Homo sapiens: one gene and its partners. The protein of the gene in region 3 purifies or fractionates together with the protein of the main gene of each other region. This does not show direct contact. Each region holds a gene or a part of one and is shown on either strand. Other genes may lie near its edges.

The links.
Region 1: the proteins of TEC (region 3) and RBM34 purify together in Homo sapiens (affinity purification with mass spectrometry; one large-scale study listed by BioGRID and IntAct). This does not show direct contact.
Region 2: the proteins of TEC (region 3) and PEX2 purify together in Homo sapiens (affinity purification with mass spectrometry, with the first as the bait; one large-scale study listed by BioGRID). This does not show direct contact.
Region 4: the proteins of TEC (region 3) and KCMF1 purify together in Homo sapiens (affinity purification with mass spectrometry; one large-scale study listed by BioGRID and IntAct). This does not show direct contact.
Region 5: the proteins of TEC (region 3) and MAPK1IP1L purify together in Homo sapiens (affinity purification with mass spectrometry; one large-scale study listed by BioGRID and IntAct). This does not show direct contact.
Region 6: the proteins of TEC (region 3) and LTV1 purify together in Homo sapiens (affinity purification with mass spectrometry; one large-scale study listed by BioGRID and IntAct). This does not show direct contact.
Region 7: the proteins of TEC (region 3) and SEC16A purify together in Homo sapiens (affinity purification with mass spectrometry; one large-scale study listed by BioGRID and IntAct). This does not show direct contact.

Annotation. Positions count from the first base shown.
Region 1 is NC_000001.11:235,140,500-235,144,796, reverse strand, and holds part of RBM34 (RNA-binding protein 34), read left to right. Parts: intron 1-4,297.
Region 2 is NC_000008.11:76,997,117-77,001,996, forward strand, and holds the start of PEX2 (peroxisome biogenesis factor 2), read right to left. Parts: upstream 2,963-4,880; 5' UTR 2,874-2,962; intron 1-2,873. UniProt on the Homo sapiens protein: E3 ubiquitin-protein ligase component of a retrotranslocation channel required for peroxisome organization by mediating export of the PEX5 receptor from peroxisomes to the cytosol, thereby promoting PEX5 recycling.
Region 3 is NC_000004.12:48,161,316-48,165,612, forward strand, and holds part of TEC (tyrosine-protein kinase Tec), read right to left. Parts: intron 2,453-4,297; coding exon 2,387-2,452; intron 1-2,386.
Region 4 is NC_000002.12:85,047,331-85,051,627, forward strand, and holds part of KCMF1 (E3 ubiquitin-protein ligase KCMF1), read left to right. Parts: intron 1-2,035; coding exon 2,036-2,318; intron 2,319-4,297. UniProt on the Homo sapiens protein: E3 ubiquitin-protein ligase which accepts ubiquitin from an E2 ubiquitin-conjugating enzyme and then transfers it to targeted substrates, promoting their degradation by the proteasome.
Region 5 is NC_000014.9:55,054,490-55,058,786, forward strand, and holds part of MAPK1IP1L (MAPK-interacting and spindle-stabilizing protein-like), read left to right. Parts: intron 1-4,297.
Region 6 is NC_000006.12:143,846,023-143,850,319, reverse strand, and holds part of LTV1 (protein LTV1 homolog), read right to left. Parts: intron 4,270-4,297; coding exon 4,096-4,269; intron 190-4,095; coding exon 102-189; intron 1-101. UniProt on the Homo sapiens protein: Essential for ribosome biogenesis.
Region 7 is NC_000009.12:136,444,244-136,448,540, forward strand, and holds part of SEC16A (protein transport protein Sec16A), read right to left. Parts: intron 3,919-4,297; coding exon 3,841-3,918; intron 3,667-3,840; coding exon 3,610-3,666; intron 3,438-3,609; coding exon 3,326-3,437; intron 3,122-3,325; coding exon 2,984-3,121; intron 2,773-2,983; coding exon of another isoform or gene 2,707-2,772; coding exon 2,612-2,706; intron 1,477-2,611; coding exon 1,402-1,476; intron 869-1,401; coding exon 809-868; intron 1-808. UniProt on the Homo sapiens protein: Acts as a molecular scaffold that plays a key role in the organization of the endoplasmic reticulum exit sites (ERES), also known as transitional endoplasmic reticulum (tER).

The DNA of each region.
Region 1 (4,297 bases), on a different chromosome or scaffold from region 3:
TGCTGGGATTACAGGCATGAGCCACCGCGCTGGGCCTTATTTTATTTTTAAGAGATAGAGTGTTGCTTTGTTCTCCAGCAGAAGTGCAGTGACTCAGTCATAGTCCACTATAGCCTGGAATTCCTAGGCTCAAGTAATCATTCTGCCTCAGCCTCCCAAGTAGCTGGAACTACAGGTGCACACCACCACACCCTAGCTTGTTGGCTTTTTGACTTGGCTTATGGGAAATTTTGCCATGTAAAACTTTTTTCCTTTTTCTTATAGCCAAAATGTTTAAAACCTTTTTTTTTTTTTTTTAGTTTATTAAGGCTACTTCCAGTAAACTGCACATATTTGACATGTACAATTTTATAATTTTAACATATGTAGGCAATCTTGAAACCACTGCCATAGTCCAGATACCAAACACTTTATCATCTCGAGTTTCTTCTAACCCTCTGCAATATGTCCCTCCACCTCTGTCCTCAGGCAGCCATTCATTTGCTTTCTGTCTCTATGTGTTAGTTTGCTTTTTCCAGAATTTTATATAAGTAGAGTCATCATACAGGATATACTCTTGTCTAATTTGCTCAGCATAATGATTTTGAGGTTTGTTTTTTTGTGGGGGAGGGTTGGTGGAGGGGAACAGTGTCTTCTGCTGTTGCCCAGGCTGGAGTTCAGTGGCACGATAATGGCTCACGGCAGCCTTATCACCTGGGCTCAAGCAGTCCTTCTGCCTCAGCCTCCTAAATACCTGGGACTACAGGTGCTCGCCACCACACCCGGCTGATTTTTAAGTTTTTAGTAGAGCCAAGGTGTCACTAATGCCCAGACTGGTCCTGAACTCCTGAGCTCAAGTAGCCCTCCTGCCTTTGCCTCCCAAAGTGTTGCAATTACAGGCTTGAGCCACCGTGCCTGTCTGAGATTTGTTCTTATTATTGCAATGCATTGGTAATTAATTCGTTTTTATTGCTCAGTAGTATTCCCTTGTATGACAGTATTTGTTTATCCATTCACCTGTTTATTGTGTTGTGTTGTATTTATTGTGATGTATTGTACTGTATTGTACTGTATTGTATTGTGATGGAGTCTTGCTCTGTCGCTCAGGCTGGAGTGCAGTGGTACCATCTCGGCTAATTGCAACCTCTACCTCCCGGGTTCAAGTGATTTTCATGCCTCAGCCTCCCAAGCAGCTGGGATTACAGACACATACCACCATGCCCAGCTAATTTTTTCATACTTTTAGTAGAGATGGGGCTTTGCCATGTTGGCCAGGCTGGTCTAAAACTCCTGACCTCAGGTGATCCGCCCGCCTCAGACTGCCAAAGTGCTGGGATTATAGGCGTGAGCCATCGCACCCGGCCCCATTCACCAGTTTATGAACATTCAGGTTATTTCAGCCTTTGGCTATTATACATAAAACTGCTAAAAAAAATTTGGGTACGGATCATTTCTTTTGAGAAACTGCCTGGTCGGATTGCCAGATCTTACGGTATATTGTAACTTTCTAAGAAGCTGCAAAATTGTTTTCCAAAGTGTTTGTACCATTTTACATTCCTACCAGCTATCGATGAGAATGTCAGTTGCTTCACATCCTCACCAGCACTTGGCATTGTCATTTAATTTTAGACATTCTGAAGGTTTGTCAACCACAGTGACTAAAAATGTTAGGCATCTTATGTGCTTACTATTTGTATCTATTCTTTGGTGAAATGTTGGTACAAAAATTTTGCCCATTTTTTAGTGACTTTTAAATTATTTTTATATGGTTGTAAGGAGTTATTTATATATTCTAGATATAACACCTTTTCCTGCTATGTGTGTTTCAGATATTTTGCTCCAGTTTGTGGCTGGCTTTTTTAGAGGTGTCTTTTTTTTTTTTTTTTTTTTTGAGATGGATCCTTGCTCTGTCACCAGGCTGGAGTGCAGTGGTGCGATCCCAGCTCACTGCAACCTCCGCCTCCCGGGTTCAACTGATTCTCCTGCCTCAGCCTCTCAGGTAGCTGGGATTACAAGCGTGCGCCACCACACTCGGGTCATTTTTGTATTTTTAGTAGAGACGGGGTTTCACCATGTTGGCCAGGCTGGTTTCGAACTCCTGACCTCAGATGATCCACCCACCTCTGCCTCCCAAAGTGCTAGGGTTACAAGCATGAGCCACCACACACGCCCAGAGGTGTCTCTTAAAGATTGAAAGTTTTAAGTTTTATTGAAGATCTCATTTAGAGAGTGCTGTTGTTGGCCAGGCACAGTGGCTCACGCCTATAATCCATTACTTTGGGAGGTCAAGGTGGGCGGATCACCTGAGGTCAGGATTTTAAGACCAGCCTGGCCAACGTGGTGAAACCCCGTCTCTACTAAAAATACAAAAATTAGCCAGGAGTGGTGGCGTGCGCCTGTAATCCCAGCTATTCTGGAGGCTGAAGCAGGAGAATCACTTGAACATGGGAGTTAGAGGTTGCAGTGAGCCGAGATCATGCCATTGCACTCCAGCCTGGACTGCAAGAGAGAAACTCCGTCTCAAAATAAAAAAAGTGCTATTGCTTGTCAGTTGGCTTGGTAGTCTGGTGGGAGTGGGCGCAGCAGGGTCTCTGCTGTCTTGTCTTAGTGTTTCCGTGTCTCAGGAGTGCACCTGATCAGGGCTTTTTTCCCGGGGCAGCCAAGCTGTGCCAAATGCCTTGTACCTTTAGTGGGGATTATGCAGAGGATGTTTCCCACCTCTCCCCCGGTAGCTGGACTCCTCCCTTCCTCCGGCTGTAGGGGTCTTCTCTGTGCCCTGGAGTGACAGGGTTTGCTATCCCTCCCCTAGCAGCTTAGCCTTCTCCTCCATCAAGAGAATGTGTCCGGAATTGGTGGGTTCTTGGTCTCACTGACTTCAAGAATGAAGCCGCGGACCCTCGCGGTGAGTGTTACAGCTCTTAAGGTGGTGCGTCGGGAGTCTGTTCCTTCTGATGTTCGGATTTGTTCGGAGTTTCTTCCTTCTGGTGGGTTCGTGGTCTCACTGGCTCAGGAGTAAAGCTGCAGACCTTCGCAGTGAGTGTTACAGCTCTTAAGGCAGCGCGTCTGGAGTTGTTCGTTCCTCCCGGTGGCCTCGTGGTCTCGCTGGCTTCAGGAGTGAAGCTGCAGATCTTTGCGGTGAGTGTTACAGCTCATAAAAGCAGCGTGGACCCAAAGAGTGAGCAGTAGCAAGATTTATTGCAAAGAGTGAAAGGACAAAGCTTCCACAGTGTGGAAGGGGACCCGAGTGGCTTGCCACTGCTGGCTAGGGCAGCCTGCTTTTATTCTCTTATCTGGCCCCACCCACATCCTGCTGATTGGTAGAGCCGAGTGGTCTGTTTTGACAGGGTGCTGATTGGTGCATTTACAATCCCTGAGCTAGATACAAAGGTTCTCCATGTCCCCATCAGATTAGTTAGATACAGAGTATCGACACAAAGGTTCTCCAAGGCCCCACCAGAGCAGCTAGATACAGAGTATCGATTGGTGCACTCACAAACCCTGAGCTAAACACAGGGTGCTGATTGGTGTGTTTATAAACCTTGAGCTAGATACAGAGTGCCGATTGGTGTATTTACAACCCCTGAGCTAGACATAAAGGTTGTCCAAGGCCCCACCAGAGCAGCTAGATACAGAGTGTCGATTGGTGCACTCACAAACCTTGAGCTAAACACAGGGTGCCGATTGGTGTGTTTACAAACCTTGAGCTAGATACAGAGTGCCGATTGGTGTATTTACAATCCCTGAGCTAGACATAAAGGTTGTCCAAGGCCCCACCAGAGCAGCTAGATACTGAGTGTCGATTGGTGCACTCACAAACCTTGAGCTAAACACAGGGTGCCGATTGGTGTGTTTACAAACCTTGAGCTAGATACAGAGTGCTGATTGGTGTATTTACAATCCCTGAGCTAGACATAAAAGTTCTCCAAGGTCCCACCAGAGTAGCTAGATATAGAGTGTCGATTGGTGCATTCACAGACCCTGAGCTAGACACAGGGTGCTGATTGGTGTATTTACAATCCCTGAGCTAGACATAAAGGTTGTCCACATCCCCACCAGACTCGGGAGCCCAGCTGGCTTCACCCAGTGGATCCTGCACCGGGGCTGCAGGTGGAGCTGCCTGCCAATCCCATGCCGTGCGCCTGCACTCCCCAGCCCTTTGGTGGTCGATGGGACTGGGCGTCGTGGAGCAGGGGGTGGCGCTCCTCGGGGAGGCTCGGGCCGCACAGGAGCCCATGGAGGGGGTGGGAGGCTCAGGCATAGCGGGCTGCAGGTCCCGAACCCTGCCCTGCGGGAAGGCAGCTAAGGCCCGGTGAGAAAT
Region 2 (4,880 bases), on a different chromosome or scaffold from region 3:
AGTTTTCCTTGTTGCTTGGGATGTATTTTGTCTATATTCCTTCTCCCTGCTTCACTATACATGTGGTCAAAGGACCATTCAAAGAACCATGTCAAATCTGAACAAAAGGAATAGATGAGTGAAAAACTCAAGGTGTGAACATTAACTATTACGAACACATACATGCAAGGTAGAGGTAATGCCAACTCATTCATCTAACACTAAAAGACAAGTGGGCCGAGGTGGGCAGATCGCCTAAGGTGAGGAGTTCAAGACCAGTCTGGCCAACATGGTGAAACCCTGTCTCTACTAAAAATACAAAAATTAGCCAAGTGTGGTGGTGCACACCTGTAATCCCAGCTACTCGGGAGGCTGAGGTAGGAGAACTGCTTGAACTCGGGAGGCAGAGGTTACAGTGAGCTGAGACTGTGCCACTGCACTCCAGCCTGGGCAACACAGCAAGACTCTGTCTCAAAAAAATGAAAAGACAGTGGTTAGGCATAATCAAAACACCATTACACTTAAGTTCTTGGTTGTTTTACTAGTAAGAAGAAAGAAAAGATAACTTGGATGGAATTTTATCTCATCTTATTGACAGGCAGTAATAAGGGAGATGTCTGATAAAAAGAAAATATATTAAATTGAGTAAGAAGCAACATAGAAGAAGGTATTTTTATTGTATAGATGGGAATATGTTAGGAAGAAGTCTAATATCCCACACGGAGAAAGGCAGAGGACACTAGACATCCCTTCTTTGCCTCCACTTCCATGTAAAGAAACTACAGGGCTGGGTTTAAAAGAGCAGGATTACAGACAGGGCAAATGGAGCAATTTAGGGCTTTTCTCCTGAGGTTTCTTGTACATTCCAAAGGAATAGAAAAGGAACATGAAACATTTACAAACTGTTATCACTTCACAGAAAAGAGGTACAGAGAACATCCAATTTGCTTCTAGGTTGTCCAACTCAGATCATCAAAAGAGGAAAAAATGAAATAATTCAAGAGAGAACTTCTGGCCAGAAATAAAGATTGTGTACATTCACACATTTTCCTTGTGCTATTGGAACCTGAGAATGTGGATGGTGTGCAAGAGGGAAAGAAACTTACAATTATTTGATGTTGTGAGAAAAACATGGGGCTAGGACTGAGCTCTTTTAATGGGTGTGATGATGAGCAAGCCTGCTAATACCTTTAACGTTCAGGTACCAAATATGTAAAATGAAAAATACTTGTCCTCCCTACGGCAAGAATCATTATGTGCATCAAATATAAGCAAAACTTTTATGGCTAAAATAAAAGGATATGGAGAAGAAGGAATAATAAATTCTAATTCTGTTCATAAAGAAAAACATTTCAAATTTGTATTGATAAAATAAATTGAAACAGAATAGGGACATATTTGTAGCTTTTAGAAATAAATTAGCTGTGAATATATTATTTTTAAAAACTGTAATAAATGTACATTGAGTACAAATGAATAATTATCCCAAAAACCAGAATTTTAATGCTAGAAGAAAAGGCAGATCATCTCGTTTAAGACATAAATTTAATCTTCTTAACAAGAACCTTGTTATTCAAGCGGAACACCTAAATGGCTGCTCTTGTTAAAATAAACCTGAGGGTGGGCTTGCTTTGTCTCTCCCTGCACGGCTCCAGAAAATTTCTACACAAGTTCTCCTATGGAACAGTTTTAAAACCCCAGCTTGAGTACTAACACTAGTTTCTAAAAATAAGGAGAATACGGCCAAGAGGTAAAATTGTACAAAGGCAACTAGAGTCAGGACTAGAATCCAACTGTCTTGATTTAGTCTAATACTCTTCAGTCTACTAGTCTAGTATTCGCTCTATGTCCTGTTACTTCTATTTTTTTTTTTAAGAAAAAAATATGAAGGGTTTTTTTTTTTGACTCTGTAAATAATTCTTTCAAATCTCTTTCTGGCTCAAGATCACTCAACTGTAATCTTTCTGGAAACAAGTAATTGATAATATAGGTGAGATCAGATAAGTTAAAAGAGCCACCCCAAGTTCATTCTGTTCAGGATTAAGTAAAGGTAACACTTTAGGGGAAGGTGTTTAGACTACAAGCTGCGGTGTTGTGAGCGCCCAAGTATCATTTAATTGTCCGAAACGTCAAGATAAAATATTTCCGAGGGGCATCACGGAAGTTTAACAGAATGTGTTAGACTTGAACGTTCAACAGCTTGCTCATTTTGCCAAAAGCCCTTTCACTAAATGTGGGAAATTTGGAAAATGGTACCTCAATAAATAAACAAACAACGATTTTTAATTTAAGAACCCAGGAAAAAATGTTAACAATTCTCACATTCAGATTTCTTATCAAAAGTCAACGTGAAATATAACTAATTTATCGCAAGCAATTTTATCAGAAACTTTTCATTATCTCTTCCTCCATAAGAAAACCAAACTGCATTTACGTGCGCTTTCAACAGTGTTAGAAAACTAAGCACTCAAATTTTTTGTACTACATATAACACTTTACATGAACTTTCAGATATTAAGTAAAGTTTGGATCCTCAATTCTTTATAAAGCCGTTTATAAGAGGTAAATATCTTCACGACCGCCAAATGAGAGAAAAAGATTTCGAAGTTCGTCTCTTAAGTTACTACGTGGAATGCAGAGGGGCTCAACTGCAGCTGTGTGTGTGTTTATTTTTAATGCCGCGATCCTAAAAACATCTTTAGGAGTTTAGGTTTGCTTCACTGCCTTTCCCAAAATTCAGCAGCTTTGATTTGCCTTTTCCAGGGAGACAGGAAGCCAATAAACAGGGAAAAAAAAGCAAACGGCGACAATTACAAGGTCGTGAAACTCCACGACCTCCCAGCTGAAAACAAGACCTCGGGTTTGCACTCCGGCTCTCTAGGGCAGACACTGACCTTAGGAGTCTGCGAAACGCCCACGCTCCACGTAACTTTCTCTGAAACATTCTCTGGAAAGCTTGTCTTTTCCTAGCCGAATCTGGATTACCAAGGCTTCCGGAACTCGCAGGCTTCCGGAGCGACGCAGGAGCCGGAAGTGGCTGAAAAAAAAAAGAAAAAGTTACACCAACGAGAACTGCGCTTTAGCGGCGCTGCTGAAGGCACTGGATGGCCAAACAACCGCGAACGCCGACAAGCCGAAGAGCCGAAGGGCCGAAAAGCCGAAGCGGACACCCGCGCGCGGTGATTGGCCGGTTGGCCGGAAGAACTCTGTCTCTGATTGGCAGGAGAGTCACGAACCGGTCAGCCCCGGGTCAGGGGCCGCAAGTGAGGACACTACAAGTGTCGAGGGGCCTAGGGGAAGCCGGGGCTTGGGAGGGCAGGGCTTTCTCTGCTTGCGGACATCGCGAAGGGCCTCTGGCAGGCGCCGCCGGGTGGCGGCGAGACGCCTCCGCGCCTCCGGGGTTCCTTGTTCGCTGTCGGAGGAGGACCGGCTGAGGGATGGCCTGGTGGGGAGGGAGCCCTCGGGCAGGTGGCTGCGTCGGGCCTGGGGCAGTTGTGCTGCGCTTGGAGACCTGCCCGCCCTCGGGGCCTGTGTGCACAGGGAGGATAGGCTGTTTATCTCTGCAGGCTCAGGAAGGCAGGTAGCTGGCCCGTCAGTCATCCGCCCTGCAAAGCGCTCCCGAGAGACCCCGTAGAGCGGGCCAGCGCGCGCCTGGCCTGAGGTTTCCCGCCCCCGGAGGCCCTCACATCTCCCCGGTAACGCTTAGGAATTCGGGCAGCCAGCTCGCCTACCCCTGGGGAATCGAGGCAGAGCTTCTGGGAATGGGGTCTGAGGGAAGAGTGCTCACCAGGCAGTGACATGTAGCCGTTGAGGATCGCCACTGCCTTCTCGTTCTGTGGTATGAATGGCAGTGTCTCTCTAGAGAGTTAGTGCTTAAGTTTGAATGATGGCAGGCACTTCAGGATTCCAGCACGTAGTAGGGTTTAAGAACGTCTTAGTTCTTACCTCCAGTCTCGACTCACCGTTCCTACAAGGAACACTCACTTCTACGAAAGCTCTATTAGACATTCGAGGGAGAGCTTATACTGTAGAACCAGTGTTATTAGGAAAGTTTTTTTTTTTTTGCTTGTATTTTTATTTCAGAAACTACCCATGGAGCAGAGTTGCTAAAATAAAATTTATTAACTCTAATGCTATCCAAATTGTGAAACAATGGTACAAATGAGATAGAGTAGAAGCTACAAATTGATAGAGTATGTAGTTCACTTAGGGGTTTGGGAGTGGATTTTCTAGAGCTGCAACTGTCCAGTGTAGTAGTCACTGGCCACCTGAAAAGTGGCTAGTCTGAACTGAGGTCTGCTCTAAGTGTAGAACATGCACCAGATTTCTAAAGCGTGGTCTGAAAAGAAAAAGAATGTAAAGTATTTCATTAATTTTATATTGCTTACATGTCAAAATGAGAATGTTTTGGAAAATTTTAAATTACGTGGCTTCCATTATATTTCTATGGATACTGCTGTTCTAGAGAGTAAAAAAATCTCACTGAAGAAGAGTAGGCCTTTCGTTTAGCAACTGTGAAGAAAACCAACCACGCTGCACCTCTCAGGTAGCCTACAGATGTGCTGTGCTTCACTTAATTTTTGAGAGGGACGGGGGAAAATACACACAAAGACTTGATTGACATAGAGGACATTTTCAGAAAGCAAATTCTGGTTCATAGAGCCTTATGTATGTCATGTGAACATCACACAGTAGCGAATGAAAATAATAAAGATATCAAGAAACTTGAATCATATTTAATGAATCTCATTAAGAATGCGGGGAAACATGCAACAGTTAAAATTCTGTTGAAATTGTTTAAAATAAGTTCTAGATTTTAATGTTTAACCTGTAGATACAGTATACCTTCTTAATTTTCCCATGAGCTGGTGAGCTGAGGTTCCAGGGAAGCTTTGTTTCCA
Region 3 (4,297 bases):
TAAGGGCGCTTTCATTTCTGTCACCTTCTCCCTTTACCATCTTTCCACCAAGAACATCCTGTTATTAACCATCACAACGAATCTGCTTTCTTTTCCAGCACTGATCTCTCCGATCTTCTCCTCCCTACACTGTTGACTGGGTATGGAAGTTAGAACTAGGTTACTGATAACACTAGGAGCTGCGGGCCTGGAAATCCTGAGTTCAGCCCAGTGACAGTCTGTGGCCTGGGATTCCTCCTGGGCCCAAGCAAAGAGAACTATTCACTCCACAGCTGCCAGAGGCTTTTTTTTTTTTTTTTTTTAATACTTGAGAACATTTAAGTTGTTGTGATGGTTAATATTGAGTGTCAACTTGATTGGATTGAAAGATGCAAAGTATCGCTCCTGGGTGTGTCCATGACGGTGTTGCCAAAGGAGATTAACATTTGGGTCAGTGGACTGGGAAAGGCAGACCCACCCTCAATCTGGATGGGCACAATCTAATCAGCTGCCAGCACAACCAGAATAAAAGCAGGCAGAAGAACTTGGAAAGACTAGACTGGTTTAGTCTTCTGGCCTACATCCTTCTCCCGTACTGGATGCTTCCTGCCCTCGAACATTGGACTCCAAGTTCTTCAGCTTTGGGACTCAGACTGCCTTCCTTTCCCCTCAGCTTGCAGACGGCCTATTATGGGACCTCAGCTTGTGATCGTGAGTCAGTACTCCTTAATAAACTCCCTTTTATATATACATCTATCCTATTAGTTCTGTCCCTCTAGAGAACCCTGACTAATACAATTGTGTTACAGGGTGGGCTTTGGCCAAAACAAAACAAAACAGAACATGGAGTAGGAAGACAGAATAGGGTCTCTGCCTGCCCACATGGGAACAGGTTTCCCCTTGGTCATCTACTGGGCATGGTACAAAGGCCATGTGGATTCCCTGGCCTCTGAACAGAATGCAGTGGCACTCCCACGCTGGAGGCTGAAGTACAGAGTTATGCAGAGGAAGAAAATTTCTTGGAAGAGAGAAAATTTCCAAATTAAGGTACATTTGAAACACTCGAGGCCATGAATCATAAACTTCAATATTGAAAAACCTCAACTGAAATCACATGAGTCATAAAAGGAGTTCTCATATTTAGATAAGGATTATCTGGCTTCCAAGCATCCTCTTTCCCCAAATTCAATCAGTTCTCCACGCTATCGCTTTAAAACCAGGCCCAAGTTTTCACCTTTTAGCACCTTCCCTAATTCTAAGGATTTTATAATTTTTCCAAAAATCTATTTGACTTAAGGGCAGAAATGCTACTTTATTTATACATTGTTTATACTCTCTTCTACTTCTAAAATTACTTTGAGAGATCACATCCACTGAGCGCTGTGGCTTTTTGAACTTGTTAACCCTTTCCTAGATGTTAAGGTACACTTATGGTATAGCAAGTGACATGAAGAGAGGAACAGCTTGTTGTTGCTATTGTTTTCAAGGAAGTGAATGAAGCATCAATACACCACCTCAGAATGACCATAAAAGAGCGTTCAATGTATATGAGCCTCACGTTACAACTTGGCCACACACTGCTAGTGGGTATATAAATAATACAAGTTATCTGGAAAGCAATTTGACAGCATGCGTTGGGAACCCTAACAATGTTCACGTACAGCCTGTAGCCCAGCACATAGATTTTAGAGATCCAGTTTAAGATAAGAAACAAGACGTTATCCCATTTTTTTTTTAATATAGCAAAGGTACCTAAAACAACCTAAACCACACAAATAAGGAAATGATTACATAAATTATTGGACATCCACGTGCCATCTGCCTGGTTATGTCTCTAAGGCCATACATAATGCTTGATACATGCTAAGATCTCAGTAAATATTTAATAAATTTATGATCAAATGAAATAAAATGTAGCTAGGAAAATGTTTTCAAAGAATATTAAAGTGTATGAGGAAATAAGCATGATTCTATCTTTTCAAAAATAGTAAAAAGATTGAAAGGAAATATACTAATGCTGACAAAGGTCAACTCTAATTAATTTCAGTAATTTTTTCTTATTAACATTTCCACTCTGGAAACTGTTCTGCTTATGTCCTGAATGAATGGACATGATCTGTATTTCAAAGTCAGCTAATCTGTGATTTATTTCAAATCAATTCAATTATGCTTATGTAATTTATGTACATAAGCCTATGTAACTCCATTCACACAGTACCTTCAGGAAAAATATATTATAGAGATTAATTCTCAGTCTTTTACCACATCAGGCAATTGAGTTAAGGATATTTTAGCACCCCCTTCAAAGAATCATGAAAGATATCCATTAATCTTCAAAATGCCTTACATAATTAGGAAAATGAAAAGTTTCTGATTTTCCACATTCACAAAATAAACATTTACTTACTCATATTGATCTAAGTTGTTTGATTTCTTTCCCGTTACGTAATTACTTGGGATATATCCTTCATTCCTAGAAATAAGAAAAATACTTTAGGTAAACTTACTTTACTGGGAGGTTATTGAAAGAAAGAAAGATTATTGCCTTTTGAAATAAAGCATGACATTGCTTAAAGCTTATTATAAGAAAGACTAGCTGACCCCCCAAAATGCAGTATCTGTAATTCACTTGACATTTTACAAAGTACTTTCACTTTTGGTCTCCATAAAAATTCTGCGGTAGGCAGGCATTATTGTACCTATTTTCTGGTGGGGAAACTAAAGCTTAGAAAGGTTATAGGATTTTTTTTCCCAAAGGTCCTAAAGTTAGCCAGCAACAGGGCCAGAACTCAAACTCTGGACTTGTGACTAGCTCCTGTGCTCCTCCAACATTCCACAATACTTCTCCAGAATTCACAGTTTTGCTGATATGTGTTAAAGAAACCATTACTTGAGAAAAGTCAAAGTGTTGGATTAAAAATACCCACCACTCTAATACCTCAATAGTTCTTATAGAATAGTTTCACAAAGGATAATTCCTGGCCTTTCGGTCAGTATCATTTGGGGCACCTGTTAAAACAGCAAATTCTTGGGTCATAACCCAATAAATGTGAACTGAGAAGACCTATGTGAGGTCAAAAAATGTCCGATTTTACCCCAAATGACTTTCACACACATCACAATTTAAGATGCACTCTTATGTAAGTAGGAGCTAAGGTTTTCAGCATAAGAAAACAGATATACATATAAAATTTAAAAATTGAGTAGAAACCTTATAATCTTAAATTTGAATTTAAAGTATTAGTAAGAACTCATAATACACACACACACACACAAATGTGTGCATACAGGTAGCTCTGTTGCACTGAGAAAGGCCCAGAAGGAACGGCAATCCAGCAGCAGTTAAGATCTTAGCATTGCCACTGTCTCTAAATACCATTTGTGACTAAAAGGAGCCAGTCCCCCTTAGAAAAATGTCAAATTGTGTCCAGGTGCAGTGGCTCACGCCTGTAATCCCAGCACTTTAGGAGGCCAAGGCAAGCAGATCACTTGAGGCCAGGAATTCAAGACCCGCCTGGCCAACATGGCGAAACCCTATCTCTACTAAAAAATACAAAAATTAGCTGGGCGTGGTGGAACATGCCTATAATTCCAGCTACTTGGGAGGCCGAGGCACAAGAATCACTTGAACCTAGGAGGCGGAGGTTGAAATGAGCCGAGATCACGCCACTGCACTCCAGCACTCCAGCCTGCGAGACAGAACGAGACTCCATCTCAAAAAAAAGAAAGAAAAAGAAAAGAAAAGAAAAATGTCAAATTGTAAGTTTGGCCAGAAAAATAAATACAAGATAACTTGAGCCATTTCACTGAGCCAGAAAGTAGGAAAGAAAAACTAACAGGATCCTCTACCAAAAACAGCCACCATCGACCTAATTTGGCCAATTCAAGCAAAGAGAATAATGGTGGCAATGGATTGGAACCAAATATATAAGTATCCATAATAACACTAAAAATAAACTGTTGGTTACCATTGTTATCACTAGAGAAAGCTCAGTCATCAACTCATTATTCTGAAAACTAGTAAAAGTTTAAGAATCCAAATTTCATCTTTCCTTTCCTTCATGAACTAAATGAACTGGTATATGAGGCAGTTCTTCTTTAGAGAACTACTAAATGCAGATGGAATGACAAAATTAGGAAATCACCATTTTGTAACCCCTAATGAAATAATGACTCTAAGAAAGAATCATTAATGAACCCCCAAATCATCAGGGTAAATACCAATGAAGAACTTTATGACAGAGGAACAAGTCTGACACCTGAACCACTAAGCAATCTTAGCATTACTAAAAGTAGGACATCCAGAGATCACCTTCTA
Region 4 (4,297 bases), on a different chromosome or scaffold from region 3:
TTAAGAACATGTTATGTGTAAAATTCTGTCACAGATTTATGCCTATCTCAGATGTTGTGCAAGGCGCCTCATGGCTTCCAGGTACACATTCCACCACATGGACACATTTCAGAACTGTTATCTATAGCTAATTGAAAAGACTAAAGAATTAAGCTCTTCTCATGGAAGAAAGGAAAGTAGGACTTAATGTCCTGACCTTGATTTGAGAACTATATTGTTGTAGAACATACTGAAAGGTACATGTTTAATAGCTTGGGAAAAATCTTAAAAAAAAAAAAAAAAACACAGTTTTTGAACCTGGCCATGTCACTGAGTCTAGTACATGACAAACCTAGGAAGTTGGTAGCAGAACACAGGGTCAAAATAAAATACAAGAAATCACTGTAGCCTGATAATCTGCAAGACACACCAAGCAGACAAGTGGTAAGACAGTGGGAAGTGTGCACACATTTAAAGCAACAATTCTGAAATGTGTCCATGTGGTGAAGTGTGCACCTACCTGGAAGCCATGAGCACCCTGCAGAACACCTGAAACATTGATAAGTGTAAATCTGTAATAGAAACTGAGAACATCAGAGCTAAATGACAACTTAGGAACACAAAGGAGGAGACAGCAGACACTGGGGGAGGGTAGCAAGAGAGAGAGGAGCAGAAAGATAACTGTTGGGTACTGGGCTTAATTGGGTCCTGGGTGATGTAATAATATGTATGACAAACCCTCGTGGCAGGTGTTTAACTGTGTAACGGACCTTCACATGTACCCCCAAACCTAAAATAAAAATTTAAAAAAGAAAAACAACCTAAGAACAATTTTATACCTATCATGTTATTTAAAAGTTAGATATACCATATAAAATTTTAATTCCAAATGTGCTTTGGACATTTGTGTGTGCAACAACAAAAACAAGCCTAATAAACTGAGTTTGGGGGATTTAAAAAATATTTCTTCATCCAAAGGGAATATTTACCTGCTATTTTGGTGGCAGGCACTAAAAATTAAAGTAGTTTCTGGGAGCAAAATTCAAAATTGAGAAATTTTCTTCATTTGATTTTTTTTCTGTCAGTGAAAATTAGTTTATTTTAGTGATAGACTGTATATTCCATGAAAGAGTGGTATAAGAGTGCTATAAAAAGCCTGGGATAAAGCAACAGTGAGCAAGAAAACAAACTGTTAATGAGTTTTAATGATAAAGAGTTTTTGCTGGCCTGAAAGTGTCTGCAAGGCAGTCATCGATTCCCTATAAGCGAGGTGGACCCTCCACTTGGAAGAAGGCATTTCACTGTACCTTACTTAGATGAGGATGCGGGGACAAAAGTTTACACCTCTCTTAATGAGTACAGCCTTATGGACACAAGACAGTCTGGATCATAACAGGCCACTAAGTAGGCTGTACAGTCAGATGCAGCAGGTTCTCAGGAGCCAGTCAGCCTTGCTGAGCACTGGTAGTGGTATCTACTGCAGTGGTACTCTGAAACAGCAGTACCAGAAGGTACTAGAGGGAGAAAGCAGAGGCAGAGAGTGTGCAAGGGCCACCATCAGAAATGATCCAGGCCTCTTGGACTGAATCCTAATAATTCATTCAGTCATTCAGTAAATGTTTGAATTCCTGCTATATCAGGCCCTGTTCTGATAGCTGGGAATATAGTCAACAGTAGACCTCATCCCTGCTTCCATGGAACACATATTGAGAGAGCTTATATTATAATTGGGCCCACAGATAAACCACTTCATTAAATACTAAGAGAAAGCTTCACTAAATTAGTCTATTATGCAAATAATTTTAAAGACAATTTAAGTTTTACTTCAAACATAATTCAGTCTGGGTTAATATTCGTATGCATTTGCATTCTCTGTCCACAGTAACTCCTGCCTTCAGGAGGCATTCTAGAAGGATTCAGCTCTTAAACTGTGTGCTGTGGTGGTTACCTACCTGTTCACAATGCTTTTGATGTTGTTCCAGTAAAAGAGTGATCTGTAGCGTTTTGTTTTCCTCAGTATTAAGCAGACATTAATTGTCTTCATTTCCATTGGCAGAGCTTTTATCTCAGTTATCAGGAGTGAGACGTTCTGCAGGAGGACAGCTTAATTCCTCTGGCCCTTCCGCTTCTCAGTTACAACAACTGCAGATGCAGCTGCAGCTAGAACGGCAGCATGCCCAGGCAGCACGGCAACAACTGGAGACCGCACGCAACGCAACCCGGCGTACTAACACAAGCAGTGTCACCACTACAATCACACAATCCACAGCAACAACCAACATAGCTAATACAGAAAGCAGTCAGCAGACTCTACAGAATTCCCAGTTTCTTTTAACAAGGTAGCTCATTTGTTAATAGAATTTTGTTTGGGAAGTAATATTTTATTGCCACTACAGTCTGGAATTATCTTTTCTCTTTTGTGCATTATATTTCTTTAAAATTTTGTGTTTGATTAAAACTCACAGATCTCTGATTAAAACGCATATTCAGTATTTCCCCAAGAATGTGAAACATAGTAATTATTTTAGATAAATTAAGAATACTGGGCCAGACCCAGTGGCTCACACCTGTAATCCCAGCACCTCACACCTGTAATCCCAGCACTTTGGGAGGCCAAGGCAAGCAGATCGCCAGAGCCCAGGAGTTCCAAACCACCCTGGGTAACATGATGAAATCTTATCTCTACAAAAATGAGCCAGGTGTGATGGTGCGCACCTGTAGTCCCCGCTACTCAGGAGGCTGAGGTGGGAGGATCGCTTGAGCCCTGGAGACAGAGGTTGCAGTAGCCAAGATTGCACCATGCACTCCAGCCTGGGTGACAAGAGTGAGACCCTGTCTCTAAAATAAAATAACTGGTCTTGTTCTCAAGGTATATATCATCATATAATATGAATTGTTTTGCCATAGTACCCATAAAACTTAAACACTATATCATTATATATATATGGTTCATATTAGGTGTATTTATCATAATTAACGTTGCTTGTTATTGCCAGTTTTAATCTGCTTTGAAATATTAAAAGTATAAGAAGGATTTCATAATACAGTGGCAGTTTTCTCCTGTGAATTTCTAAAAAAGCTAGATTTAAATTTTTATGGTTGGCACACAAAAGTAACTTAAAAAAATGGCTTCCTATGGTATAAATAATATTTAGTAAAACAGTAAACTACTCTACTAGATGGAGTTCTTGTTTGCTTCTGAAACTGTTAGCAACTGCATGTATTTGTCTGCCAAAACTTCACAGGCATTTTATGTGACTTTTAGGAATATAAAGAATTCTTAAAAGAGCAATGATGAGTGGAGACTTAGCCTCAACAGATAATGAACCTGGACTAATTGGGCTTTTAAGGGAGCAGAGAGGAACATAAAGGAAGAACTGTAAAATGAAGAATAAAGTTTGTGTAATACATGATTATTTCCAAAATGCAGTGTGTATGACAATTCATTGGGATGTTAGAGGAAAATATTATAATTTCTACTTATGTTTCTTTTATCTCATACTCTGTTAATACAGTGGTGCATGTGTATAGTTATAAATAACATATTGTGGGTGCAGAATAAAAAATGCTTGAAAATCCCTGGGCTAGAGCCCCAGCTTTGCCAATTACAAGTTTTGGACCTCAGGCAAGTCATTTCACTCCTCCAAACCTCAATTTTATCATCAGTATCCCAGAAGTTTTGCCTTTAGAGAGATAATTATTTTGAGGATTAAATGGAATACTGGTATGTGTATGGTCTGGCTCACTATCTGGCCTATAGTAAAGGTCCAATTAATGGTACTCGTTATCAACATTTGTTATGAAACCAAGAAAAACATTTTAAATGGGTAATTTACCTTTGAATTATCTCTGCAAGGTCAGTAACTGTGCCTGGTTATTACCAGATAATGCTGCTTTAATGTAAGAAAACCACAGAGCCACAGATGGAGCTACCTGCTGCCATGTAGCCTTCCCCATAGGGACTGACCAGCAGCAGGTCTATAACATACCAGATCTAAGTCCCTACCTCAAAAAGGAGATCTACTAGCGTGCATTTCTACTGAGAGTTCACAGAACTGTGGGTGGAATGTCTTGCCAGTGCCCTTTGGAAAAGACATCTTCCTACCCACCCTTGCCCTATCCTTTTTTTTTTTAAGACCCAAACTACTCAGCTTGATCTGTAATTTTTTTCTGTGCATTTATTCCACACCCAACTCTCAGAGCATGGTATGAGTGACCTCTGAGTGCTGTCTGTGGATTCTGGTTGTAGCTTCTTGAAATCCCCCTTCTATCATCTGATACTGTACATTCTATGGTACCATGCAGTTTGCAAACCACT
Region 5 (4,297 bases), on a different chromosome or scaffold from region 3:
CAAATCAACCCAAAAATTTTGATTTCGCTTAATTTCGCCTAACAAATATCTAACATGTATATAGCACTTTATAGATTAAGTGTGTTACTATTTTCTGTGCAGTGGGCAGGAATTATAACTTCTACAGATGGAAAATGGTCTCTTATTGAGAAGTTTTTTGTCAAAAGATAACCGTCAAAAGGATTCATGTCCGGGTTTCATCACTGTGTAGTCCCATACTGTTTATCACTCCATCACAATTTGAAGGCTGTCTGAAATATCCATGAACTCCACTGGTAATTCATGGAGTTCAACTCTCTTAACCACCCTCCTCCCTGACCCATGATTTTTACCCTAACAGCCATGAGAGTTTCCAAAAATGTTATGTTTTACTTTTCTAGTGTATGTCAAAAGACATTTTGTACTGTTTTAAAATTACTATTCTTGCTATTCAAAGAATAAAAAGTATTGTTTTTCAGATGATGGGTGGATCATGCTATAAAATGGTAACAAAGTTTTGGAAATAATAGCTTTAGATTATTCCAAAAAGAAAAAAAAGAAAGCCTTTCTTGAGTATAAATTGTTTTTATGAGTTCAAGGTTACATTGGCCTCATCTTAATAATTAGCGATGATTCAGATATTTTGGAATAGCTTTATATTTTTATTTATTTTTCTTTTTGAGACAGAGTGCCACTAATATTGCCCAGGCTGGTCTCTTAACTACTGGCCTCAAGCGGTCTTCCCACCTCAGCCTCCTGAGAAGCTGGGATTACAGGTGCACACTACCAAGCGCGGCTTAGAATAGCTTTTTAGAAAACCTAAACTTTTTATGTTCTGCAACTCTCCTCATATTGAAACGTTCATGTCCAACTGTTTTTCACCTTTTCTAATGAAAGTATTCTCCAAAGAACAAATTGGAATGCTTCCAATTATAGTTGTTCCCCCTTATCCTAGGGGGACACATTGCAAGACTCCCCAATGAATCCCTGAAACTGAAGTCTGTATACACTGCCGAAGCCTAAGTATACCATGTTTTTTAGATCTAATAACCAAGATGGGCTGATAGCGTATACAGCATGGATACACTGGACAAAGGGATGATTCACGTCCTAGGCAGGAGGGGGCAAACTTTCATTTTGCTACTCAGAACATGCTCTTGCCCCATTTAAAACTTAGGAATTGGCCAGGTGCAGTGGTTCATGCCTAATCCCAGCACTTTGGGAGACTGAGGTGGGCGGATTACTTGAGGCCAGGAGTTTGAGACCAGCCTGGCCAACATGGTGAAACCCCGTCTCTACCAAAAATTAAAAATTAGCCGGGCGTGGTGGCACGTGCCTATAATCCCAGCTACTTGAGAGGCTCAGGTAGGAGAATCACTTAAACCTGGGAGGCGGAGGTTGCAGTGAGTCAAGATCACACTACTGCACTTTAGCCTGGGTGGCAGAGCGAGACTCCATCTCAAAAACAAAACAAAAAACTTACGAATTATTTATTTCTGGAATTTTTCATTTAATATGTTCGGACCTTAGGTAATTAAAACCACAGATAAGGGGGGATCACCCTAACATGAACGCTGTTTATTCTAGGAATGGAGAGCTGGTCACTTTACTAAGACAGTGCCGTAGAACAGAACTTGTTACTAATTCCTATGCTTAGGGCTTTGTTTTTTAATCACAAGATTCTAGCACCTCCCCTATCTTCCAGACTTGGATTTTGAACTTTAAAATTTTGAAGTAGTGTTGTGAATCAGTTGAATATTATTAACTTGTAGAATAATTTATGTAATTCCATGACTAGGTAACTGTATAATTCTGAAAACCTGAACAGTCAAGGCCATTTGGTTCACTTTGATTCTCAACTCCAGAATTAATATGAACTTTGATACAGAATCATTTTCTATTTCAGAAAGGCTAACCCTGTTTAAAAAGCATGTTAGCCTTACAACTTACCGTATATTTTCTACACTGTTAGTCCTAAAAATTTTATTGTGTGATGTGATTGACGTTAAACCTTAACATGGGAATGGGTTGTATGTGGGTTTTTTTGTTTTTTTGTTTTTGAGACGGAGTTTGCACTGTCACCCAGGCTGGAGTGCAGTGGCTTGATCTCAGCTCACTGCAAGCTCCGCCTCCTGGGTTCGCGCCATTCTCTTGCCTCAGCCTCCTGAGTAGCTGGGACTACAGGTGCCCACCATTATGCCTGGCTAATTTTTTGTATTTTTAGTAGAGACGGGGTTTCACCTTGTTAGCCAGGATGGTCTCAATCTCCTGACTTCGTGATCCGCCCTCCTCGGCCTCCCAAAGTGCTGGGATTACAGGCGTGAGCCACCGCGCCCGGCCATGTTTTTTGATATTCTGAATAAAAAGGATATAGCAGTTGGGATAGGCTTGGGTTCTTGTCCTTTATGTTCTTGTCCTTTCCTCATGATAATCAAATCATAATTAGAAATAAGATGCTAAGAATACAAAGGTGGCTCTATGTTAATACTGTATTGATAGGTCAAAGGAGAAAAAGCATGAGATCAATTCATTAGATACTGAAAAGTCTTTTGAGGGAATTTAATGTCTTCTTGCTTTCTTTATTAACAGAATAGGAATAAATAATAGCATAGGCATAAATTAAAAATAATGTAATTTTTTAAAATCTCAAACTAAAAATGGGAATCATACTTAAACATTAGCATTCCCAGGAGAGTTGGAGCAAGACCTCTGTGCCCACTATCACTCAACATTTCATTATTTAAGTCCTAGCAAGTGCAAAACAGAAAAGATGCATAAATATTAGAGAAGGAAAGTTATTTTTTGCAAATGGCGTATTTTTTATCTGGAAATACCAGAGAATCAAGTGAGAAACTTTGAAGAATAAAATAATTCAGTAATGATGCTTCCTACCCTAGGTTAATTAATATAAAGAAGAGTTAAATTCCTATGGCATATTTCTGGTAACAAAAACATCACTAAACTTTTAAATAAAACCCAAAACACTTCTAGTATTAAACATTTAAATGAGCTGGGCGCAGTGGCTCACGCCTGTAATCCCAGCACTTTGGGAGGCCAAGGTGGGCGGATCACAAGGTCAAGAGATGGAGACCATCCTGGACAACATGGTGAAACCCCGTCTCTACTAAAAATACAAAAATTAGTGGGTGTAGTGGCCCGCACCTGTAGTCCCAGCTACTCAGGAGACTGAGGCACGAGAATCGCTTAAACTGAGGAGGCGGAGGTTACAGTGAACCAAGATCGCGCCACTGCACTCCAGTCTGGCGACAGAGCGAGACTCCATCTCAAAAAAAAAAAAAAATTTAAATGATTTCTACTAAAAATTTTAAAAATTAGCATGCCTATGGTCCCAGCTACTCAAAGGCTAAGGTGGGAGGATCCACTTGAGCCTGGGAGGTGGAGGTTGCAGTGAGCTGTGATCACACCACTGCACTCCAGCCTCGGTGACAGAGCAAGACCCTGTCTCAAAAAAAAATTGAATGAATGTGAGCTGTGTATACATTTAAGAAAGATTAATAAAAAGATAATTATTTGCCTCCCTCTTCCAGTTCAGGGTCTCAATGGCTGGAGCCTTTCTTGGCAATTCAGAGTCCAAGTTGGGAACCAGCCCTGAACTGGACGCCATCCCAGCACAGGGTGCTCTCACCTACACCCACGCTCACAGACTGGGCCGCGTAGACACATCCATTCATGTGCATCTTTGGGATATGGGAGGAAACTGGAGTACTTGGAGAAGACCCATAAAGATGGGAGAATGAGCCAGCTTCACACAGACAGTGACCTCAGCTGAGACTTTTTGTTTTTTCTTCTCATCAACATTATAACAAAACAAAGTTGAATGAAACGTCTTTCGAGGACCTGCTATAGACTAAAATTTTAAAACCCTGTCCCATATATGAACGAACAATTAGAAAATACAGTAGAAGAAAAGAGCCTATTTACAACCACAGGGAAAAGTTTAACAGAAATCCCTTAAAAGAAATGTATATAGGAGATCTGATCAAGAAAATAAACTACATGAAAAGGACAGGAACTAAACAGTCCTCTGTGTCTGCATTTGCGGGTAGAAAATATTCAGGGAGCCGGGTGCGGTGGCTCATGCCTGTAATCCCAGCACTTTGGGAGGCTGAGGCGGGCGGATCACGTGAGGCCAGGAGTTCAAGAGCAGCCTGGCCAACGTGGTGAAACCCTGTCTCTATTAAAAATACAAAAAATTAGCCGGGCATGGCGGCGCTTGCCTATAATCCCAGTTACTCAGGAGGCTGAGGCAGGAGAATCTCTTGAACCCAGGAGATGGAGGTTGCAGTGAGCTGACATC
Region 6 (4,297 bases), on a different chromosome or scaffold from region 3:
TTGTTTCAATACTTTACTGGGGATAGAAAAATCCTACATCATTTCTTTATGTTTTGCAAAATACATTTATCCATATGAAAAGATAAAGCAATTAAAAATACCTGAAACTGGAGCTGCTTTATTTAACAATCCAACATCTTCCTCAAACTCTGAAGCAAACACTGATGAAGGCAACTTAATTCCAGTGCTCTTGAAAAAGAAATTGCACAATGGTTAGGTTTATTTGGAAATTCTTCTTAACTAGTGTACCGGGTTGAAGTCCCCCCCAAATCAATGTCCATCCAGAACCTTAGACTGACCATATTTGAAATAGGGTCCTCTCAACTATAATAAGATGAGGTCTTACTGGACCATGGTCCTATAACGAGACCACATGAAGACAGAGACTCACAGGGGAGAATGCCATGTGCAGATGACAGCAGACTGGAGTGAGGCCTCTATAAGGCAAGGAATTCCAAGGAATGATCACCGGTAACCTTCGGAAGTTAGGAATGAGCCATTCAACAGCCTCTCCCTCTAAGCCCCCAAGAAAAAAACCAAACCTGCTGATACCTTCATCTCAAACTTCTGACCTCCAGAACCATGAAGGAAGAAATTTCTGTTGTTTTAAGTCACCTAGTTTGTGGTAATTTGTTACTGCAGTCCTAGGAAACTATTACAACTACATTCTGTGTTCTCTCACCTGTGCTCCAGGTTGTATATATGTTAAACATGTATATTCCATCATAAACCCAAAAGTAACTCTCTATAATACATCACAATGCCTTCTCTAGCAAATTATTCCATTTATCCCTCAGATCCCATGAGGTATCACCATGTTTTACCAAAAGAACAAAAACTAGGAAAGTTTAAATGGCCCACCTGCCTGAGAATGATCAGTAAGTGAGATTCTGGGATTCAAATCCCAGAGTTTCTTAACTCCACTTGCCTGAAATTTCAAACCAAAATTAAACATTTTCCTCTTAAACTAGAGATAATGTCCTAATCTCTAGTAATGGCACAGCCCTTGTATGAATTGGCAATCTTAAATCCTCGGGTGGTTATAAATCATTTTGCTCTGTCCTATGTCCCCTTGAAATCTCTTACATACAGTGATTTCACTCTATTCTTTGGGGCATCACCTCATTTATAGTTAACCAAAACATAAATGACTGCAACCGCTCATATAGCTAGTCTATATCTACTACAACCTTCATACCCATGGCGAGATTAAGCTCCTTTAATAGTTTTTCATGTGACCTTCTTGAGTTTCTGACAGGTCTCAATTTTTCACTCTGTATTTAAGGCCCTGGTTCTCAAGGACCTATAAAATCAAGGCCTACTCTGTGTATCCAAATTTCTCAGTTATTCTATATGACCATGCAAATCAAGTTCATTCCTCAGTCATGTAATAATGCAAAACACTTTACTTGGCGCGCATGTGCCTGACACGGAACCACAGTGCTCACTGTCTCGGCAGCCTGACTGAAAATGTTCCTTCTCCTGTCAACAGTACCCACCACTTGGTGGCCAGCTCGGTTCCTACCCTCCGACATGAAGCCCTTTCTGATCACTGTCCTAGAACTTCCCTTTGTGTGAACTTCCCGCCTTCTTCACACGCTGCAATCTACTCAAACATGTGCTTGCTAGCCTACATTCTCTGACTGGTTCTTATGCTTGTTTCCTCTCCTTGACCAAACAGTTCATAACGTGAGGACAACCGCCATGTGTTATTTATCTCTGTGCACCTCACCACCTGCCCTATCCTCAGCCCAGGAGGAGGCACAAAGCTGGAATGTGCATCCTCATTGGCTCACTGAGAAAGCTCTCTGAATTGGAAGCCTCTGAGGAGCATGAGTAAAGGCTACATATGGCAGTGTACACACAGCAAGATGTTATGGCTTCCAAAATGAGTTTCTCAGTAGCACAAACATGGGCAAAGATGTTATTTTGCTGTAGAGTATATTTTTAAGAAAACAGCTTTACTAAGACATCATTCACATACAATTCACCTAAAGTGTACAATTTAATGTTTTTTAAGGATATTACATTATTAATTACTTAAAATTGTAGTAAAATCTACATAGTCTTTTAGGTTTTTAAAAAGGTACCTTTGTGATATTTATCCTTAGAAGTTTGGGGTTAAACACAAGGTCAGTTTGTGTTAAATGAATTTACCTTTGTGAGATATTTTTCAAATCTTGAAAAGTAGTCAATCACATACACGATTAAGAGTTTAAAGAGAAATTACTCTGTTTTTAGAGGAGTGCTGTGTTTTCATTGGTTGCAGTAGTTCTCAACTACATGACATTTGCCCAGCTACTTTCCACAACAGCACCACCATCTTTCTTTCATGTCAAAATCAGGGCCTGCTCAAGCATCAATCATTTCTATACTGCCTTTTTACACTGTCTTACACTGTTTCTAGGGGTTATTCATTATTTCTAATCTACTCGAATTTGGTGGTGTGTTACAAATTAAAGTAAAAAAAGTATATGGGACTAATCCATATTTTTTCATAGCTCTTCAGAAAACCAACCACACTTCTGTTTTTAAATACAATTCAGCTGTCCCTGCAAAGGTCACTGAAGTGTCCATTTAAGAGCCTTATCCTGTTAAAAAGCCAATTAGTGATTGCTTTTACTCAAAATGAATTAAGGATTAAAAGTTAGTCTTATACGACCGGGCGCGGTGGCTCACGCCTGTAATCCCAGCACTTTGGGAGGCCGAGGCAGGCAGATCACCTGAAGTCGGGAGTTCAAGACCAGCCTGACCAACACGGAGAAACCCCGGCTCTACTAAAAATACAAAATTAGCCGGGCACAGTGCCACATGCCTGCAATCCCAGCTTCTAGGGAGGCTGAGGCAGGAGAATCGCTTGAACCCGGGAGGCGGAGGTTGCGGTGAGCCGAGATCGTGCCACTGCACTCCAGCCTGGGCAACAGGAGCAAAACTCCGTCTCAACAACAATAACAACAACAACAAAAGTTAGTCTTGTACTGGTCAATACAAGCCAGGCAAGACTTTACTAAGAATTTTCTCCCTTAGATAAACAAGTTGAGCCACTAAGGAACCCCTTCTCTCCTTCAATAGGTTATAGAAGCAAGTGAGCCAATAAGTCCCTACTACCAATAAAGCCTTGAGGAAGAAGGAATAAAGAAGTTGGTTCTCTATGACAGAGATGTGGTGGGATTTGGGGCGTTACAAAAGAGCCACAACCTACTTAGTGAACGAGCAGCTGCAGTTATTACCTTTCTTTGGGATGGTATCCTGAAACCTAACCTTTCTGAGTCTCCTTAAGCAACAAGCTATTGCCTATAAGAACTACAATCACATCTTCCCCAAGGAAAGGAATGCCTAGACCATGACAGAATTGGGGAATGAGGAGCAGGGTAAACTGGTGCCCTTTCTATCTCTTACCTTTTGCTTATAAACCTAATGAATGTCTCCTTTTTTTAAAGTGCTAGGTGATATAAAAGTTTCCCACAGGAAAATTTACTCTACATCAAATTAAAAATAAGGTCACGGAGGCATACAACATGGGCATTCTTAACATAAACAGGGGAGAAAACAGAACTTAGACTAACAGCACTAATTTCTTATAAACACGTACTATCATTTGTCCTGAAAGAGAAGGTATTAAAGTGGACCGAACATTTGTTTACAAGACAGGAATGTTATTATCATCCACTCATTCTGTTTGCTTATGAGTAGCCTGCAGCTTTTACAAAAGTGTTAAAGATCTGAATATTCCACAAAAGTTAAGTCCTATCTTAGAACAAGAGTTTATGATCCTGAAAACAGTTATGTTGTTAACATGTAGAATGTCAGCTGCTTTTCTCCTATTGAAAAGTGCTGTCTAACATGGCCATGTCTATCAATCAAAAGTTCTGAACCTATAAAAAGGCTGTTACTGTTGACACCTGCCACCAGAGAAGACGTGACCTATTCTCTCCTGATGGTATACACATGCATACACATATATAATTTTAAGTGGAGGCGTGGTCTATCTTTGTGCTCTTCATACGGACACCATTTCTTGCCCCAAACAGATATCTTGATTCAAAAATGATTTCTTCACCTCACTCCCACAATTAAATTGCTGAAAAGCCTTACTGGAATTACTAGCGTTTCTTCTTTCTCCTCTCTCCTGTTGTGTGCACTGAAGGTACTTGAGGGAATAAGCTCTGAAGGCCCAGATGGTTCCTTCAGGTGCTGCAGGTAGTCATAGTCGTCATCAAAGAACACTCCATACTTCCTCTGTTCTGCTCGCCTTTCTTCATTGTCTATCTATAAACGAAATGGAATTAGTACTTTC
Region 7 (4,297 bases), on a different chromosome or scaffold from region 3:
ATTTGCAGGCGGAAGGGTCGCTGCAAGCCTTTCTGCTGAGCCACGGCTGCAGCTGGTGCCTGGACAGGCAGAAGATGAAGCGTTCGTTCACCTCCCTCCCACATTGGCCGCAGGTCACTGCTGCACCCGCCCCGGCCTCAAACCAACGTTCTCATGCTTGATCAGAAAGGAGCAATCTTCCTTCCAAAGGAGAGCATCCTGACCGGGGAAACACTCACTCGGCGAGGCCACGACCCAGGCCCGTCATTGGAAAAACCAATTTGGAAAGAGCAAAATGACAGAACCCACTCATTGACTAGGACACCTCAGGGTCGATCCAGTTGCCCCATGTATGTGGAGACTGAACAGCAAAACCCCCTTTAAGGCCATTTAAAGGAACACTGCTGTAATCTCAGCACTTTGGGAGGCTGAGGCGGGCGGATCACCTGAGGTTGGGACCAGCCTGACCAACATGGAGAAACCCCGTCTCTACTAAAAATACAAAATTAGCTGGGCGTGGTGGCTCATGCCTGTAATCCCAGCTACTCAGGAAGGCCGAGACAGGAGGATGGCTTGAACCCAGGAGGTGGAGGTGGCGGTGAGCTGAGATCACACCATTGCATTCCAGCCTGGGCAACAAGAGCGAAACTCCGTCTCAAAAAAAAAAAAAAAAAAAAAAGGAACCCTGTACCCTTGGTCACGTGACGCTGAGGGAGACAACGGGCGAGGTTAGTGGCAAAGCGCACGTGGCGAACCGGCACCGCGTGCTCAGGAACACAGGCGGCACACGCCAGCTCTCATGTTAGTGAGGACCACCAGCCGCAGGTACCTGATTAAAATGCTGGCTCACTTCACGTGATAATGAACTCATTGAACTACAGCGCGAAAGCTACAAAACAGCAAGAACACACATAAAACACGGACGAAAGTCAACATGCACGTCACTGTCCAATCCAAGCTGTCAGTTCCATTTCAAAAGCTTTGTGATGCCATTAGAATCAACATAACTCAAAAGGGAAAAAAAAGCCAGTGTTAGCTTAAGATTCCTGTCTTAATGTAAAGCTGTTATCCCGAAACAACCATTAGCTTAGGGGAGGGCTGGGAGGAAAAGTCCAGCCTCGGCCTAAGCCAGCTTCACCTCCTGACACCTCACAATTCAAGACAATTCCCGTGCTGTTGAAGGGAGAGGACCGGGACTGAGGCGACAACTCAAACCCCCTGCACCCCTCCTGGAGCTCCCAAACAGTTTTGTTAAAACAAGTGCAATTTTTTTTCCCCCAGGAACACCACCTTCGAGGTGCTCTTGTTTCTAAACTGCCTCTTCCTACCCAGTACCGCCCCTCCATAAAGGAAGAGGCGCCTGGACAGTGAGCTGCTGGGGAGGCCTGGGCTGCGGGGGGCCCTGGCGTCGGCACTCCTTACCTCTCCTCCCTGGGAACCCTCAGGCCTGGAGGAGGGGAGTTCAGAGCCAGGGAGTGACGCTGCAGAGCTTAAAACCTGCCGAGGAAAAGAAGAATTGCAGCAACCAAATCCCAGGGAATTTAAGTCTCTCACACCAGGCCAAAAAATATGAAACTGTTCTGGCCTGGGTTACAAACGCCCTCTTCCACGTAAAGTGCTCCTCAGAGAGAAGTGAAAAGTGCCTCACACGTGGGTCCAGCCGCACAACCCTGTTGACTCTAGACCCCTGCAGCTCTCTACCAGGTGCCTGTGTGTGCCCATGACAGGCTTGCAATCTGGGGCTACTGTTATTCCCATTTTACAGAGGGGAAAACTGAGGCTTAGACAGGTGAGTGACTGCCCCATGCTTTACACAGCTGATGAATGGAGAACAGGATTAGGCCCAGGCCTGTCCCACCGTACAGAGTGCAGTCTGAGCTGGTTTTTTTTTTTTTTTTTTTGAGATGGAGTCTGGCTCTGTTGCCCGGGATGGAGTGCAATGGCGCAATCTCAGCTCACTGCAACCTCTGCCTCCTGGGTCCAAGCGATTCTTCTGCCTCAGCCTTCTGAGTAGCTGGGATTACAGGCACCCGCCACCACACCCAGGTAAATTTTGTTTTTTTTTTAGTAGAGATGGGGTTTCACCATGTTGGCCAGGCTGGTCTCGAACTCCTGACCTCAGGTGACCCGCCCAGCTCAGCCTCCCAAAGAGCTGGGATTACAGGCATCATCCACCACTCCCGACTGGTCTGAGCTGTTCTACTTCACATGGGAGTCATTTGTTTTTTGTTTTTTTTTTTTGGATGAAAATATACTTAACTTTTATTATCGGTAGGTAATTTCTCTGTAACTTAGAGTAATTAATTTTACTTTTTCCAATTTTAAAAATTGTAAAATATACATACTGTAAAATTTGCCACTTTAATCATTTTTAAGTTTTAAGCACATTCACCGTGCTGAGCAACCATCACCGCCACTATCCCCAGATCTCCGTCTTCCCAAACAGCTCTGTCCCGCCCGGCACCCTGCATTCTACCTTCCGTCTCTACCATACATAAGTGTGAGGCGTTTAAGGCGGAACACTCTACGTACACATTGGATACTGACTTGCAGAAGGCAAGGCCCTGTCTGGCAGGATGGGGAGGTGCCTCCTCACTGGGTACCTTTCCCCTTTCCCACCGTACCCGCTCACCTTGGGCTCTGGGGCAGGCTCTGGATTGGCCAGGCCCCTAGCTGCTGCAGGCCCTTCCCTGCCAGTCCCGTCTGGAAGCTGTGGTTCTTCTGCATCTGGGGATGAGAGAGCGAGGAGGCCATCATTCCGTCCCGAACGTCCCTGGGGTCTCACTGAAGACACTCCGAGAGGAAGAGAGTTTCACACTGCACACGCGGCACACTCATGCAGAAACAGGCAAATCAAAAAAAAAACCACAAACCAACCCCAGGCTCTCTGCATGCTGGCCAGGTCATTCTTTTAACGGGAGATTTAGGAGAGACTCATAGAAAGAGGATCAAAGGTCAGGAGACTGGGGGCTGACCTGGAGGGGCTGGTGCTCGTGCTACCTACCTGGGGTTGGCACGAACAAGTTAGAAGGAATTGGGAGTGGCGCGAGTGGAGCGACAAAGTCCGCAGGAGCGAGAGCCGGCTCGCTCCGCTGGGTCCCGCTTGGGTTCAGGACGTCAACGTAGCGAGCTCTGGTTCCTGCTGCAAAGGGGAGGGAAGCAAATTGAGGTGAACGCGCCAGGTGGCCTCCAGCTTCCAAATGCTCTGCGCTCACTGCGTCAGAGGAAAAGCACGCAGGGACGTGCGGGAAGCCACCTCCTCCCCACGCACAACAGCTACACATTGGCCTCTCTCTCTGGGACAGTTAATCGTTCAAGCAAGCTCCCACTCCAAGGCCACCCTTACCTGCTCTTCTAGAGTACATGTTCACGGGGGCTCCAGGAGGCCCTGGGAGGGCAGGCGGGGCAGCTTGCACAGTCTTGGGCATCGAGGTTGGAGGTGGGGGCGGGGCTTTCTTCTGCAGAGGGAAACACAGCTTCAGACACCCACTGTGTGCACAGAAACCCACTGGGATGGCACAGTCAGGAGGCTCCAAAAGGGGCAACAGCCACCCAAATATCACAGGGCCACATGAGGCTGTTCCCTCCACTCACACCTCACACCCAACAGGAACTAGAATGACAATTTACCTCCTCTTCTGGCTCATTTAAATTCACCCACTGGTTTTTCTTTTCATCCCAAACAATCTGCCAAGATTTTAAAAAGAAAAAAGGTCAGCAGACTGAACCTAAACAGAATTAGCATCTGATTAATGATGACACTTCAAAACTTCAGGAAACACCTACTCAGGTCTGCTCTGAAAGTGACAGAAAAATCATTACAATTCTTCGGACGTCCCGTGCGTATTTGACAGCACTCACCGATTTGTTCTTGTCATCTGGCAAATAAGCTTCTGTCTTTTTCTTTCCAGGTAGCCAACGAAAGAACCAGGATTCACCCTAAATATAAAAAACACGAGAACAACTTTGAAAACATTATGTTCCATGAAATAAGCCAGGGCAAAAAGACAAATTCTACATGACCCACTTCTGTGAGGCCCCAGAGTCGCCAGATCCACAGAGACACCAGGAGAATGGAGGTGGGAGCAGATCCACAGAGACACCAGGAGGATGGAGGTGGGGAGCAGATCCACAGAGACACCAGGAGGATGGAGGTGGGGGGCGATCCACAGAGACACCAGGAGGATGGAGGTGGGGGGCGATCCACAGAGACACCAGGAGGATGGAGGTGGGAGCAGATCCACAGAGACACCAGGAGGATGGAGGTGGGGGGCAGATCCACAGAGACACCAGGAGGATGGAGGTGGGAGCAGATCCA